Linked DNA regions of Homo sapiens. The protein of the gene in region 1 interacts with the protein of each later gene in a pairwise test. Each region holds a gene or a part of one and is shown on either strand. Other genes may lie near its edges.

Region 1 (7,038 bases):
CCGGAAGGTGCCCAGACCTCGGGATGACCCTGGGAAGGTAAGATACTACTGTAAGCATTGAAAGGAGGAGTAGGAAGGAGAGTGAAGTAGTTGACAGTCCAGAGTCCTGTGGCTGTTTTAATTACCCAGAAGAGGAAATCATGCTAATTAGAGAAGCATCTTTATTTTTTTCTCAGAGGAAGCTTGGTTGTCAAGCTTATGGGCCCCCAGTAGAATGGGTGACTGAGAAAGACTGTGAGGCCAGGCGTGGTGGCTTATGCCTGTAATCCCAACACTTTAGGTGGCCGAGGCGGGCGGATCAACTGAGGTCAGGAGTTCAAGATCAGCCTAGTCAACATGGTGAAACCCCATCTGTACTAAAAATACAAAAAATTAGCCAGGCGTGGTGGTACATGCCTGTAATCCCAGCTACTCAGGAGGCTGAGGCAGGAGAATTGCTTGAACCTGGGAGGCAGAGGTTGCAGTGAGCTGAGATTGTGCCATTGCACTCCAGCCTGGGCAACAAGAGTGAAACTCCATCTCAAAAAAAAAAAAAAAAAAAAAGACTGTGAAATCTTTTTTTTAAAAAAATAGAAATACTTAGTGTAAAGTTGACTTTCATGCTCCCCCTTTTTTGTGTGGCACTCTTTTTTCCTAGATGTAAAAGGTAGACTTAATAACCTTTGTACAAACATCTCTATACAAAAGTCCCTGGTGTTTCCCCCGTAAAAGAGAAGGGATGGATCATTCTCTCCATTTGACAGATGTGGATGCTAAAGTCCAAGCAAGTTTTGCCTCAGGTCAGAAGGGAAGGGAGAGGCTGTGTCTGGACATTTCCAGCTCTTTGAGCTAGATGCCATTGTTCTGCCCCTCCAAAACAATCGAGGCCTGTGTTTGGACCACAGGATTACCTCTGGCATACTCAGTGAGTTTCTAGGACAAATTTGCTCTTCATTAATACCCAGAACCCTGGGAGGTTCTGAATGTAACAATTTTGTTTTCTGTGGGAATGGGATCTCCTTCCAGGGTTCCTATTGGACAATTGACACCTGCCCTGACATTTCCCGAAAGAGAAGACACCCTCCAGATGATGATGTAAGTTCCCAGCTCATGAGGAGATGCCATATCTGAGCCAGCTGCTCCTTCCACCTCCTCTTATGGACGTTCAGTCCTTTCAGAGGCAAAGGTGGAAGGAATACCAGCAGAGGGGAAACCATGGGTCTTGGGAGGATATTGCGCCTCTGCTTATAGATTTCTTTTTTTTCACAACCCTCAGCTGTCCCAAGACTCACCAGAACAGGAGGCAAGCAAGAGCCCACGGGGAGGCGTTGCAGGGAGTGGAGAAGCCTCACTGCCTCCTGAGGGGAATCCGCAGATGTCACTTCAGAGCCCCACATCTATAGCCAGCTACAGCCAGGTAGGAAGCAGATATGGCAGGGGTCATGGGATGGGTGGTGAATAGATTCAGATGTCTCCCTGTTTATTCAGAATTATGTATTGAGTATCTGTGATATATGAGGCAGATAAATTGAGAAGGAAGGGGAAGGCAAAAGAGGGAAATAGAGAGAGAGAGAAATAGAAAGGCATAGCAGAACTTTGAGAAACATCAGGAAAAAAAAGCTGGGCACAGTGGCTCATGCCTGTAATGTCAGCACTTTGGGAGGTCGAGGCAGGCGGATCACGTGAGTCCACGAGCTTGAGACCCGCCTATCCAACATGCCAAAACCCCATCTCTACAAAAATACAAAATTAGCTGGGCGTGGTGGCATGTGCCTATAGTTCCTGCTACTTGGGAGGCTGAGGCATGAGAATCACTTGAACCGGGGAGGTGGAGCCTGGGCGACAGAGCGAGACCCTGCCTCAGAAACAAACAAACAAACAAAAAAGAAGAAATGGAGACTGATGAGAGAAAGAGGGTAGATTCAAGATAAGAACTAATGAGGAAAGAAGGAGAAAATGATGCTGGGTCATTGAAGAGCTAGGCGAGGATGAAGAGGACAGACAGGAGAGCCTGGTGACCATTGAAGGGTTTTATTGGTCCCTCAGCTGGGACACTGATCAGGAATTTCTTACCTGTTTTTGCAGGGCACAGGATCTGTGGATGGTGGAGCAGTGGCAGCAGGGGCTTCAGGCCGAGAAAGTGCTGAGGGTCCCCCTCCCCTCTATAACACCAACCATGACTTTAAATTCTCCTACTCAGAGATCAACTTTCAGGATCTAAGCTGGTCCTTCCGCAACCTCTATAAGTCCATGCTGGAGAAGTCCTCTTCCTCCTCTCAGCACGGTGAGTCTGGAGTTGGGATGGGTGCAGGGAGACTTTTTTATCTTGTTGAACAAGTGGGGTGACATTTTCTTTTTTCCCTTAGTTTTTTATTTTTATTTTTTGTGAGACAGGGTCTCACTCTTTCGTCCAAGCTGGAGTGCAGTGGCACGATCTGAGCTCACTGCAACCTCCGCCTCACGGGTTCAAGCAATTCTGTCATCTCAACTTCTCGAGTATCTGGGAGTACAGGCACGTGCTACCACGCTTGGCTAATTTTTGTATTTTTTTTTTTTTTTTTGAGATGGAGTCTCGCTCTTGTCGCCCAGGCTGGAGTGCAGTGGCGCAATCTCGGCTCACTGCAACCTCCGCCTCCCGGGTTCAAGCAATTCTCCTTCCTCAGCCTCCCGAGTAGCTCAGACTACAGGCGCATGCCACACCCAGCTAATTTTTGTACTTTTAGTAGAGACAGGGTTTCACCATGTTGGCCAGGCTGGTCTCGAACTCCTGACCTCAGGTGATCTGCCTGCCTTGGCCACCCAAAGTGTTGGAATTACAGGCATGAGTCACTGTGCCTGGCTTAAGTTTTGTATTTTTAGTAGAGACAGGGTTTCACCACGTTGGCTGGGCTGGTCTCGAACTCCTGGCCTCAAGTGATCCACCCACCTTGGCCTTCCAAAGTGCTGGGATTACAGGCGTGAGCCACCGTGCCCGGCCATATTTCTTTCTTTATTTTTTTGAGGCACAGTTTCGCTCTTTGTTGCTCAGGCTAGAGAGCAGTGTCGCGATCTCGGCTCACTGCAACCTTCGCCTCCCAGGTTCAAGCAATTCTTCTGTCTCAGCCTCCCAATTAGCTGGGATTACAGGCTCCCGCCACCACGCCTGGCTAATTTTTATATTTCTTAGTAGAGACGGAGTTTCACCACGTTGGCCAGGCTGGTCTTGAACTCCTGACCTCAGGTGATCCACTTACCTCAGCCTCCCAAAGTGCTGGGATTACAGGCGTGAGCCACTGTGCCTGACCCATATTTCTTATTTTTAACACAAAGAGAGGTATCACTACTCAGAGGAAATATTTCATGAACTAAAACTGTTTGGAGTCAAGTGAGCTCATCTGTCCTTGTGCAAATACAGCTGTTTCAGGAGGCAAGCTAGGCTAATAGCTTCAGAAAGTGAATTGGAGGATTGCCCCTTCCAGGACTAAGGGCAGTGATTTTAGGGCTGCAAGTGAGTCATTTGGAGGACGACCACGAGGGGGCAGCAGCAGTACCCTCTCCTGAAGAATCCCTGCGTTTCATTGTGAGAACAGTTTCTTTTTAGTGTATTTACATTTATGTTACTTTTATTGTGAAAAATTGCAAACAGATGCAAAAGTGTGGAGAAAAATATAATAAACCCCTGTGTTCCATCCCCCAACTTTAAGTTATCAGTATTTTATTAGGCTTGTTTTGTTTACCACTGAGCCTTCTAAAAATTGGAGTAATTTAATGGAATTCACATATACCATGTCATTCCACTCATAAATACAACTTCGATATACACCTCTAAATGATGACTTTCTTCTAGTTATCTACCATGACATTATCATTCCTAACATAATTGATAATACATCCTTAATATCAGCTAGTATCTTGTCCGTGCACATTTTCCTAATTATCATATGAGAATGACTTAAAGTTTTTACTGGGAGGCCCCTTGAGAGAACATCTGGTTCGGCCCTCTGCAATATCTGTGTGTTCGTTTTTTAAATAACTTAGAGACAGTGGTGAAGTTGATTTCAGGTGAGGCATTAGACCTTCTCATTCTGTGCAGTAGCCCTATGTTGGCAGCAGGGGCTGAATGGAATGATAAAAACTGGTTAGGAGTCACTTTTTGGAAAACTTATATTCATTTTCATGAATTTCTTCTTGTATATCACAGGGGATCAATTCCTAGAGTAGTGTCCAAGACTGTAGCATTTGCTCAAAAAATGAATCCGACTCAGGTGGTTGGTTGATTGGAGGAGGGAACATGAGAAACTGTCAGAAATAAAGTAAAAAATTAGATTGGGTGAGGACAGCCTAGAGTTCACTCAAGTTTTATTGTGACCGAAAGCCCCTAGTCTCAGACTTTTGTTCTTCCCAGCCTGTCTGCTTGAGAAATAACTCCATCCTGTCTCTGCTCCTTACCCAAGCTACATTTGTTTATAGAGGGTACAGGAATGACTTGGCAGTAGCAGAGTGTAGAGAAAATAAGGGGCCGGTCGTGGTGTCTCATGCCTGTAATCCCAGCACTTTGGAAGGCCAAAGTGGGCGGATCACCTGAAGTCAGGAGCTCGAGACCAGCCTCAACATGGAGAAACCCCGTCTCTACTAAAAATACAAAATTAGCCAGGCGTGGTGGTACACACCTGTAGTCTCAGCTACTCGGGAGGCTGAGGCAGGAGAATTGCTTGAACCTGGGAGGCGGAGGTTGCGGTGAGCCGAGATCGCACCATTGCACTCCAGCCTGGGCAACAAGAGCGAAACTCTGTCTCAAAAAACAAAAAACGGAAGGAAGAGGAGATAGTAGACAACTGATGGCTTTGTTTTGTTTCTGATTTACTTTTTTTTTTTTCCCTAAACACTAGATGACCAGGGATGGTTTCCTTTTTAAAGTTCACCTGCTGGGAAACTGTGATTTCAGGCCTTCAGCCAAATCCCTAAAAAGTAGCATTAAATGCTACACACTGACCTTTTTAGTAAGATTTCAGTGGTCTCCACACTGTCAGGGCCCTCCTCTAACCTAAGTGCCTTCCTGTCTCTTGTACCTGCCAGGAGGGCCACAGGGATCTTTGCTGCCCTAGAATGTTCTTACCCTTTTAACTCCACAGTTTTAGTCTGAGGCTTCCCATCTCAACCCAGGGAAAATCCCATTTTGTGAAAAATGCATTGCTTAAGTCACTTGCCTGCTTCCTCCCCACCTGCAGGCTTTTCTTCTCTCCTGGGGGACATCCCACCCTCGAACAACTACTACATGTATCAGCAGCAGCAGCCACCGCCACCTCAACAGCAGCAGCAGCAGCAGCAGCCGCCACAGCCACCTCCCCAGCAGTCCCAGCCACAGCAGCAGCAGGCACCTGCCCAGGGCCCCTCAGCTGTAGGGGGTGCTCCTCCACTGCACACCCCAAGCACAGATGGTTGTACCCCACCAGGGGGAAAGCAAGCTGGGGCGGAAGGCTATGGGCCTCCCCCTGTAATGGCCATGCATCCACCCCCGCTGCAGCATGGAGGCTACCACCCTCATCAGCACCATCCCCACTCCCACCCTGCCCAGCAGCCACCACCTCCACAGCCACAGGCACAAGGCCAGGCTCCCATCAACAACACTGGCTTTGGTGAGTAAGGAGGGTGCACAGTGATCTAGAGGAGGGTGGGGTGATGTCCTTGTCCTAACACCGGCATGGAGGTGCAGTTAGTTAGGAAGTTAATGATGGGTCTTTTAGGCTTCGCTCCTTCATGTGAGCTAATCTGAACAAAGTTACTACTTAGAGCTCTGTCTTATAGAATTCCTGGATCAATTGAGATTGTTTTACATATTCTCCTGACTATGAGCCTGGCTGTACTTAAAGCGTAGCTAGCTTTTCCAGTCCTAAACTCCCAGGGAGGGAGAGTCCAAAACTTGGAAATGCAACTGCTAATCTGTATAGATGCAAGAATCTTGCATGTAGTCAGCCTGGTATCAGTTGACTGCTGTCTTACACTTCACTCTATCTTATTATCCACTTTCCCCTCCTCTTTACAGCCTTTCCTTCTGACTGGTGCTCTAATATTGACTCTTTAAAGGAAAGCTTCAAGATGGTGAATCGGCTCAATTGGTCCAGCATTGAGCAGTCACAATTCTCAGGTTAGTGATCAAAGGACGAAGGAAGAGAGGGATACACTGTAAGGGAAAACCCAGTAGAAACTGGAACCGGAAGGGGGTGGTTAAATGAAGTTGCAGAAATGAGGATTTCATTGTTTTTCTTTCTTTTTACACAAGATGGATCATATTTACATTATTTTCAAATTAACTCAAATTAATCTTGTCTTAACTGAAAATGTGGCAGTGAATAATCCTAGTCCATTCTGTCTTTGGGAGGGAGAAGGCCCTCAGGAATTTAGAGACCGTGGACCACGATTTTGTAGTTTTGTCACCACTCACTGACAGTGTGACCTTGGCTGAGTCACTCAGTCACATTGAAAGTTTATCTTACTCATCAGTAAGATGGCAATTATAAGAATTTGGTAAGGGATCAAATAGAATGAGAGTTTGAAAATGCAGAGCTCTGAAAGATATAAATTGTTATTGTTAGTGCCCGTTATCAGTGGGGGTGATTGATGGTGTGTTTGGAACAGTGAGATAGGGCGGGGTCTGATAGGGGCTTCCTACCTCTGCAAGGTTTGCATTGCTTGCTTCCCTCTTTGTAGAACTGATGGAGAGTCTACGACAGGCAGAGCAGAAGAACTGGACCCTCGACCAGCATCACATTGCCAATCTGTGTGACTCCCTCAACCACTTCCTTACTCAGACTGGTCACGTGCCCCCTCAAGGGGGTACCCACCGCCCACCAGCCCCTGCCCGTATTGCTGACTCCTGTGCCCTCACCAGTGGCAAACAGGAGTCAGCCATGAGCCAAGGTACTGCACCAAGCCAGTTGCCATGGAGGTGGAGACTATGTTGAAAAGGAAGCATAGGAGAAAGGCAAAAGAGAACTGAGAGAAAGGATTTTATGGGGCAGTGACCCAAATTGAGCAGTGGAACTAGTTTATCAGTTGACTGAATATCTGTTGAATCAGTGA
Region 2 (7,038 bases), on another chromosome or scaffold:
GGTTCATCCTTCACCCGTGTTTTCAAGAAAAACTAAAGTTTTAAATTTATTTATTATTATTATTTTTTTGAGATGGAGTCTTGCTCTGTCGCCAGGCTGTAGCGGCTCACTGCAATCTCTGCCTCCTGGGTTCAAGTGATTCTCCTGCCTCAGCCTGCTGCATAGCTGGGACCACAGGCACGCCACCCTGCCCAGCTAATTTTTGTATTTTTAGTAGAGACGGGGTTTCACCATGTTGGCCGGGCTGGTCTCGATCTCTTGACCTCATGATCCACCCGCCTCGGCCTCCCAAAGTTCTGGGATTACAGGCTTGAGCCACTGTGCCCGGCCCTTAAATTTATTTTTAAGTTTTAATTAAGGAAATTTTCAAACATACATAAACATAAGAGGCTAATATAATGAGCTCCCATCACCCAATTTCAACAATTGCCAATATGTACATTTGTTTTAGACCAATTTTTTTTAGCTACTTTAAATTTCTTGAGGTTATGCTTATTCATGCACTTACCCAAATTTCATTTCTTTTTTTGTTCTTTGCTAGACTTGGAAAGATCATTGAATAATATTGCCCTTTATCTCAATGAAACAATAGCAAAGATATTGGGAGTAAAACAGAAAGATACACTGGACCTAAAATTGAAATTGTGGAAGAATATAGAAAGAAATATTAGATGGTTCTGCTTCCTGCCAAGAAAGTTGTTAATGGTCAGAATTTGTCTACCTCATCTTTGCTGGAGAAAAATCCAAGGGTGTTGAAGACCCCTTGGGAAGTGGTTCCTGTAATGTACAGCTGTATGGCCCCCCCTAACTTCAAGCATGATCATTGCTTTCAGGCTAGCAAAGGATTTATCCGCTCGCTACTCCCTTTTGGAGATTTTAGACCATATCCAAGATAAATATTGGTCATAATTTGCTCCTTTTTCTTTGGCTGCCTAGATCTTGAAAATGGCTGTTTTCCAGAGAATGTATAATTTTTAGAACCAAAAGTCCCTCTGCTTCAAACAGCTCACTGTAGACTCACTAGTTAGTGACTCTAATAAGAAGAACTACCTTTTATTGAGCAGTTTGTATTGTCTGGCACTGTGCTATGCACTTTACAAATACTATCTTGCTTAATCTTCAGAAACACAGTCTTAAACATATTGAGTGATTAAATACTGTGCCCAAAGTTTCAAAGTCAGTGGTAAGAAACAGTTTAAATGGGGGCTGGGAGCTCAGGCTCAGTGTTAACTAACTTCGTGGCTTTAGGCAAGTTGCTTGGTTTACACCAGGTGCAAAATGAAAGGAAATAATGCCGTAAAGCTGTTGGAGGAAGAAGCATTAAATAAGATGATGTTTATGAAATGTTTAGCAGAATTCCGAGCCTTCATCAGTGTTTTAAGTCTCCAGAGGGGAAATTTGGGATCCTAACCTAGATTTGTGTAACTCCAGAGACTGTGTTATTTCCTTTTATTCTCTCCTACTTCCGACCTTTCATTTATTCAGCAAATGTTATGGAGTGTTCAGCCTGTGTGGGATGCTGTGCAGGGGTGGTGGTGCCATGATGAACGAATTTATACTTTCGTATACTTTGAATTGTAGGATGGTCTCATTCACACTTGACTAATTCTTAGGCTTAAGAAAACCCTCAAACATTGAAGTGGGTCAGTTGAGTACATTTGAAGAAAAAAATAGAGTACTGTGCTGATGTTTTCCTACTGTTTTATTTATTTATTTATTTATTGAGACAGAGTTTTGCTCCTGTTGCGCAGGTTGGAGTTCAATGGCGCAATCTTGGCCCACCACAACCTCCGCCTCCTGGGTTCAAGCGATTCTCCTGCCTCAGCCTCCTGAGTAGCTGGGATTACAGGCGTGCGCCACCATGCCCGGCTAATTTTGTATTTTTAGTAGAGACGGGGTTTCTCCTTGTTGGTCAGGCTGATCTCTAACTCCCGACCTCAGGTGATTCGCCTGCCTTGGTGCCTCCCAAAGTGCTGGGATTACAGGTGTGAGCCACCGCGCCCGGCTTCTACTGTTATTTTTAGGAAAACATTTATTGATAGGGTTTGTTCGTAGGATTCCTGACCAGACTAGCTCTGGAAGGTGGCATTGTGAGGACTGCATTGTGAACAGACCAATTGGTCCTCCCCTGGAAACAATAAGGAGGAATGATGAAACAGCAAAACATTTATGAATTAAAGAAGATGTGTTGCAAGGTGGTGTGTTTATTCCTTGCTGTTGAGCAATAACAGTTTTGGCCCACCCTTCTCATGTGAGGTCAGGAATATACATTATTTAATGGAGCTTATCATGGTTGCAAACTACTTTAAGGGAAAAATGAAGCAATGTACTATGAAGTGATCTCGCAGGATCCAAGTGCAAGAAATGCAGTCAGGGTTCTCAGAAGCTTAGAGGTATGAACTAGGAAGCAGAAAGTCCTTAACATCCAGGACAGCTGGTGTGTTCTTTTCTCAGGAGCCTCATGACCTCCATCTTTGCTTCCCTGCTTTTGCTCTTCATTTCTTATCCTCTTTTCAATCCAGCTTTTGCTGCCTTCCCATGCACATGGCTCAAGATGGCTGCCCCACAATGGCCACCTCAGCCTTTAGTTGCAGATGAGCAGAGACTTCAGTAACATTCCTGGATCCCTGTTTTCATCGCCTGGGAGAAAGTCTGATTGTCTCACCTTGGCTCAAGGGATCTATCAGCCGTAGTCTGGCACAGTGGGAGGCATGTGGAAACCATGCATCACAAATATGGTTGCCAGGGCCCATGAGAGTTATAGCTCTTAGAGCACAGAGTTTGAGAGCTGGATACCATAAATGGTATCTCTGCAATTAGAATCTTAGAAATCTACCTGTGAATAAGGTATTTTGGGGAGGAGTGCTGCTGAGTTTGAAGCTCTGGAACACTGTGAATAAGGTATTTTGGGGAGAAGGAGTGCTGAGTTTGAAGCTCTGGATCATCTTTCTGTAAGGATGTAAGGGATTCCTATAAAAGCTTTTGTATTAAAAATAACTTAGCTCCTGTAGGAAGGAAATTACTCCACAGTAATAATTTACAGAATACAGTCCCAGTGACAGTGAAACAAGTCTCTCCAATGGGCAAGTTTTCATGGGGTTTTTTGTCTATTTTGTGAATGACATTTGGAAACAAAAAAGGCAGGAGGGTGTGTGTGTTTAATTTGTAATTTCTTTTGCTCAATTTTGGGCCACTGGCCACTTCACTATAACCTTATCTGCTTCAGAGAAGTGGATAATAAAGGGATATCGATTTAATTCATTCACAGATCACTCAGTGCTGCACACTGTGGGAGACCTGTCCGTGGATGGGGAAGGGAAGTGCCCAGTGATTACAAAACCACCTGAAGAACTAAGCTGAGAGTTGAGTGTAGTGTGCAGTGGTTGTCACCAATTCTTTCTCTTTTTCTGGTTAAAAAGTGCACGTTTACGCTCATTAGTCATTGTTTCTCTTTGGGTTTTCTCCAATTTCTCTGTTAATTTAAAATGAAGCAACCAGAACAAGTGATCAAAACTATACAGGATGTTAATAATATGGGTTTTTAGGGCTAGAGAGATATTAGAAGTCACATCTATCCAATGTCTCAGTCATTCAGCAGTTGTTTTCATATTTGGAGAGATGATATCTTGAGCAGATCCTTGGGAAGGGATGGATAAAAGGTACTTTAATAGAGAAAGGGTGGCTGGGTGCAGTGGCTCACACCTGTAATCCCAGCACTTTGGGAGGCCGAGGCGGGCAGATCACAAGGTCAGGAGTTTGAGACCAGCCTGGCCAACATGGTGAAACCCCATCTCTACTAAAAATACAAAGTCTAGCCGGGCATGGTGGTTTGCGCCTGTAGTCCCAGGTACTCAGGAGGCTGAGGCAGGAGAATTGCTTGAACCTGGGAGGTGGAGGTTGCAGTGAGCCGAGATTGCACCATTGCACTCCAGCCTGGGCAACAGACCAAGACTCCATCTCAAGAAAAATAATAATAATAATTAAAAAGAAAATAGAGAAGGGGCTACGCTGGCTGGGTCAGACAGACTGGGACCAGGGTCAGTAGGTTAATTCAGTGGCATCACCATTTTATTTGGGAATTTTAAATATAATTCTGACTGAAAATTGATAAACACCCTTAAGTGGAGTTATGCAAGCCTGTCTCTGCATAAGGTTTTGGAGTATCATGAATGATTTCCCTTTCTAACCTTTCTGCTTCAGCTCAAGCAAAATTGGTAAAATTTTTCCTGATTCCTGAATCTCCTGGAAAAACTTGTAATTTCATAAGTAACAAACAGCCCTCCATTTTATGACCCTATCCCAAGAACACACCATGTATGAAAGATTTCTCTGAGGAAGCTTAAAGGTCAGGGTGGCGTTCTACCCAACCTCTAATGAGCAGAGTTTAAGCACTGCCAGCATCTTGTGTACTTCCGGATAAAGCTTGGAAGGCTGCTCACCTGTGGGCCATGTTTGGTTTGGCAAGGCCTCTGCTTTTGACCCAACTTTGCAGCCCTAGGTAAATTAAATTACATTTTGATCTGTGCCCACTGAAGACCAAGAAGTAGCTTGCAGGTTAACATTATGGAGAAGGTTATTAACTTTTTGTTAATTATTACGGCAACAGACTCCACAATTCCTTGGTAGCAGCACTTTGTAGTTGTTAAGTGATATTGCTCTAAGAAACGGGTGTCGCTTTTCTCTAGTGTTTGTCAAATGCACATGTTCTGACAGTAATGATAGTTCAGATCTATTTTGCTGGGCATCTGCCAGGGGTGCCCAGTGGGTAGCTGAATCCAGAGGCACTGGAATTGTAAATACAACAGACAAATCATTTGATGGTGCCAGACTAAGGAGTTCAGCTTTGGCAGATTGCCAGGAGCCGTTGATTGGGCTCAGATTCAGTGCTATGTGTCTGTTTGCCAAGCAAGATTAGTTGTCTTGGTTAATTATACATAGAATTTGTACCCCCTTTCTCTCGATTATTTCCATCTTAAACCGGTATGACATTTACTTTAATTTTGCATCTTGTTTTGATATTGATTTGTGGGTGAGTTTCTGTCCCTGTTTTTGGTGAGTCTGTAGTGACTACGTTTTCCTGCCCCGGTCCTAACACAATCCCAGCCTTACAGACCCTGGGTTTGCTGGTGTATAATGCAGGCTTTCACATCTTGTATTGGATTCATTTGGTACCTTGTTACTTAGTGTTCTCCGTGTTCAGTACAGTGTCAATACCTCCTTATTAAATCAAGCTAATTTTTGATTCTTTAGAAGGTACAATGATTCTCAAGTTCTGGAGTACATGTGCCTATCTTATATTAAACATTAGTTTTTCTTTACAAAATGAGGCCAAAATACTTATTGTTGCCATACAAAAATAATTCCAGAATACAAAGAATCAAATAATATGATAGTAACCTCAATTCTTTGTCAGTGGGAAGAAAACAAAATGAAAAACTCAATTCCAGGTGTCAATAACATCTATTTTTTATTCTAATGTGAGACCCTGAAGTTCCATCTTTTTGAAGTTGTCAGGATAATTTCATTTGAGCATTGCTTGGAAGCTGTAAGGATATACTGTTTGGGACCCTTTTATTTATTTTTATAGAGATGGGGTTCTGCCATGTTGCCCAGGCCTCCCAAAGTACTGAAACTACAGGTGTGAGCCACCAGGCCAGGCCAACAAAACCCCTTTTAAACACAAAATATTGAAGATTCAGGCAAGAACATGCAGTATTGCTAGAGAAGGGCCTATTGTGCTTTCTTTGTTTAGTTTTACTTTTTAGGTTCACTATAGAACCTCAAGTTGTCTTTTTTTTTTTTTTAACTAAACTTTCTTTCCTTTCTTAGTAGAAAAATCCTTGAGGGGCCCTTTCTTAGTAGAAAAATCCTTGAGGGGGGAAGTTTTTTAAAGTAACTTACTGTAACCATAAATCACTTGCCGTTGGTTCTTGTTCTTCCTGTAATCCATTTTATGTACTTTTGCTAGAGTGTAGTAGTCCCAATTCCAATTCTAATCATGTAGTCTCTGTGCTTAAAACAAAATAATCCAAAAATCCAACCATGCTCCTTCTTCATTATCTACTATACAACACTGTAAAGACTGTAAACTTAGCCAGCTTTGACAGCCCTCTACATCTGACCACATCTGACCTTTCTACACTTAATTTCCCACCACTGCCTTCCTTTCCTCCCAGTCCCTGAAATGCTAGAAACTAATTTGCCAGGCATAATGAGCTTCCCCATTGTCTTCCACTCATCAAAAATCCATCTCTACCGCCTTCTAGTGCCTGTTCCCTGAAGTCTTCCCTTCTGCTCCCCAGAACTCTGTCGTGGCTCAATCCAGGCTGCCCAGTACATGGATTTATTGGGCTGTTTATGCTGTCCACCGTGTGCTTAGAAATTCCTTGAATGCAGAGACTGTTAAGCTTTGTATATACTTTTAGTGCCTAGAACAGTCCCTTATACTTCATAGGTGCTTGTTGGCTTAATTTCATCTTCAAAAGGAACTTTGATTTTGATGGATATTTGAATGTTAAAAAAAAAGCTAGAATTTTTTTTGGGGGGGATAGAGGGGAATGACGGGGGAAGATGGGTGGCTGCAGCTTAGTCTCTAATTCGATGCCTAAGTATTTAAATATTTTATTAGAGTGACATGTTATGTGAGACCATCTCAATGGAGGACCTTAGCTTTGTAAGTTTTTTTTTTTTCTCAGTTTCGAAATCCTAGGTTTCACCCTAGAAATACCCGAGTCACACCTGGATCCTGGCAGCTCATACCTACAGGTCTGGCTCAGAGACGCCAGGGCCACGAGGCTTAGGGCCCCAGGTTCTGGTCCTAGCTCAGCCCCTGGCAAGTTTCATGGTCCTCCATTTCCACTTCTTTATGGATGAGTTAGATACTTGTTTTCATTTTTGAACTTAAATTTGGTCAGCACCTACCACTTGACACTAGGATGGACACTTCAGATTTTATTTCATCTTCCTATGATCTTGGGCAAGTCAGTTCTCTGAGCCCACTTTCATCATCTATAACATAGGCACAATAATACTGTATGT

The links. The genes of interacting proteins can lie anywhere in the genome.
Region 2: the proteins of FOXJ2 (region 1) and EGLN3 interact in binary tests that used the Homo sapiens proteins (3 or more experiments, as listed by UniProt).

What each region holds. Positions count from the first base shown.
Region 1 is NC_000012.12:8,042,696-8,049,733, forward strand, and holds part of FOXJ2 (forkhead box protein J2), read left to right. Parts: coding exon 1-37; intron 38-743; exon of another isoform or gene 744-832; coding exon of another isoform or gene 833-904; intron 905-1,005; coding exon 1,006-1,074; intron 1,075-1,255; coding exon 1,256-1,396; intron 1,397-2,064; coding exon 2,065-2,263; intron 2,264-5,186; coding exon 5,187-5,594; intron 5,595-6,001; coding exon 6,002-6,103; intron 6,104-6,666; coding exon 6,667-6,876; intron 6,877-7,038.
Region 2 is NC_000014.9:33,941,062-33,948,099, reverse strand, and holds part of EGLN3 (prolyl hydroxylase EGLN3), read left to right. Parts: intron 1-7,038. UniProt on the Homo sapiens protein: Prolyl hydroxylase that mediates hydroxylation of proline residues in target proteins, such as PKM, TELO2, ATF4 and HIF1A. Target proteins are preferentially recognized via a LXXLAP motif.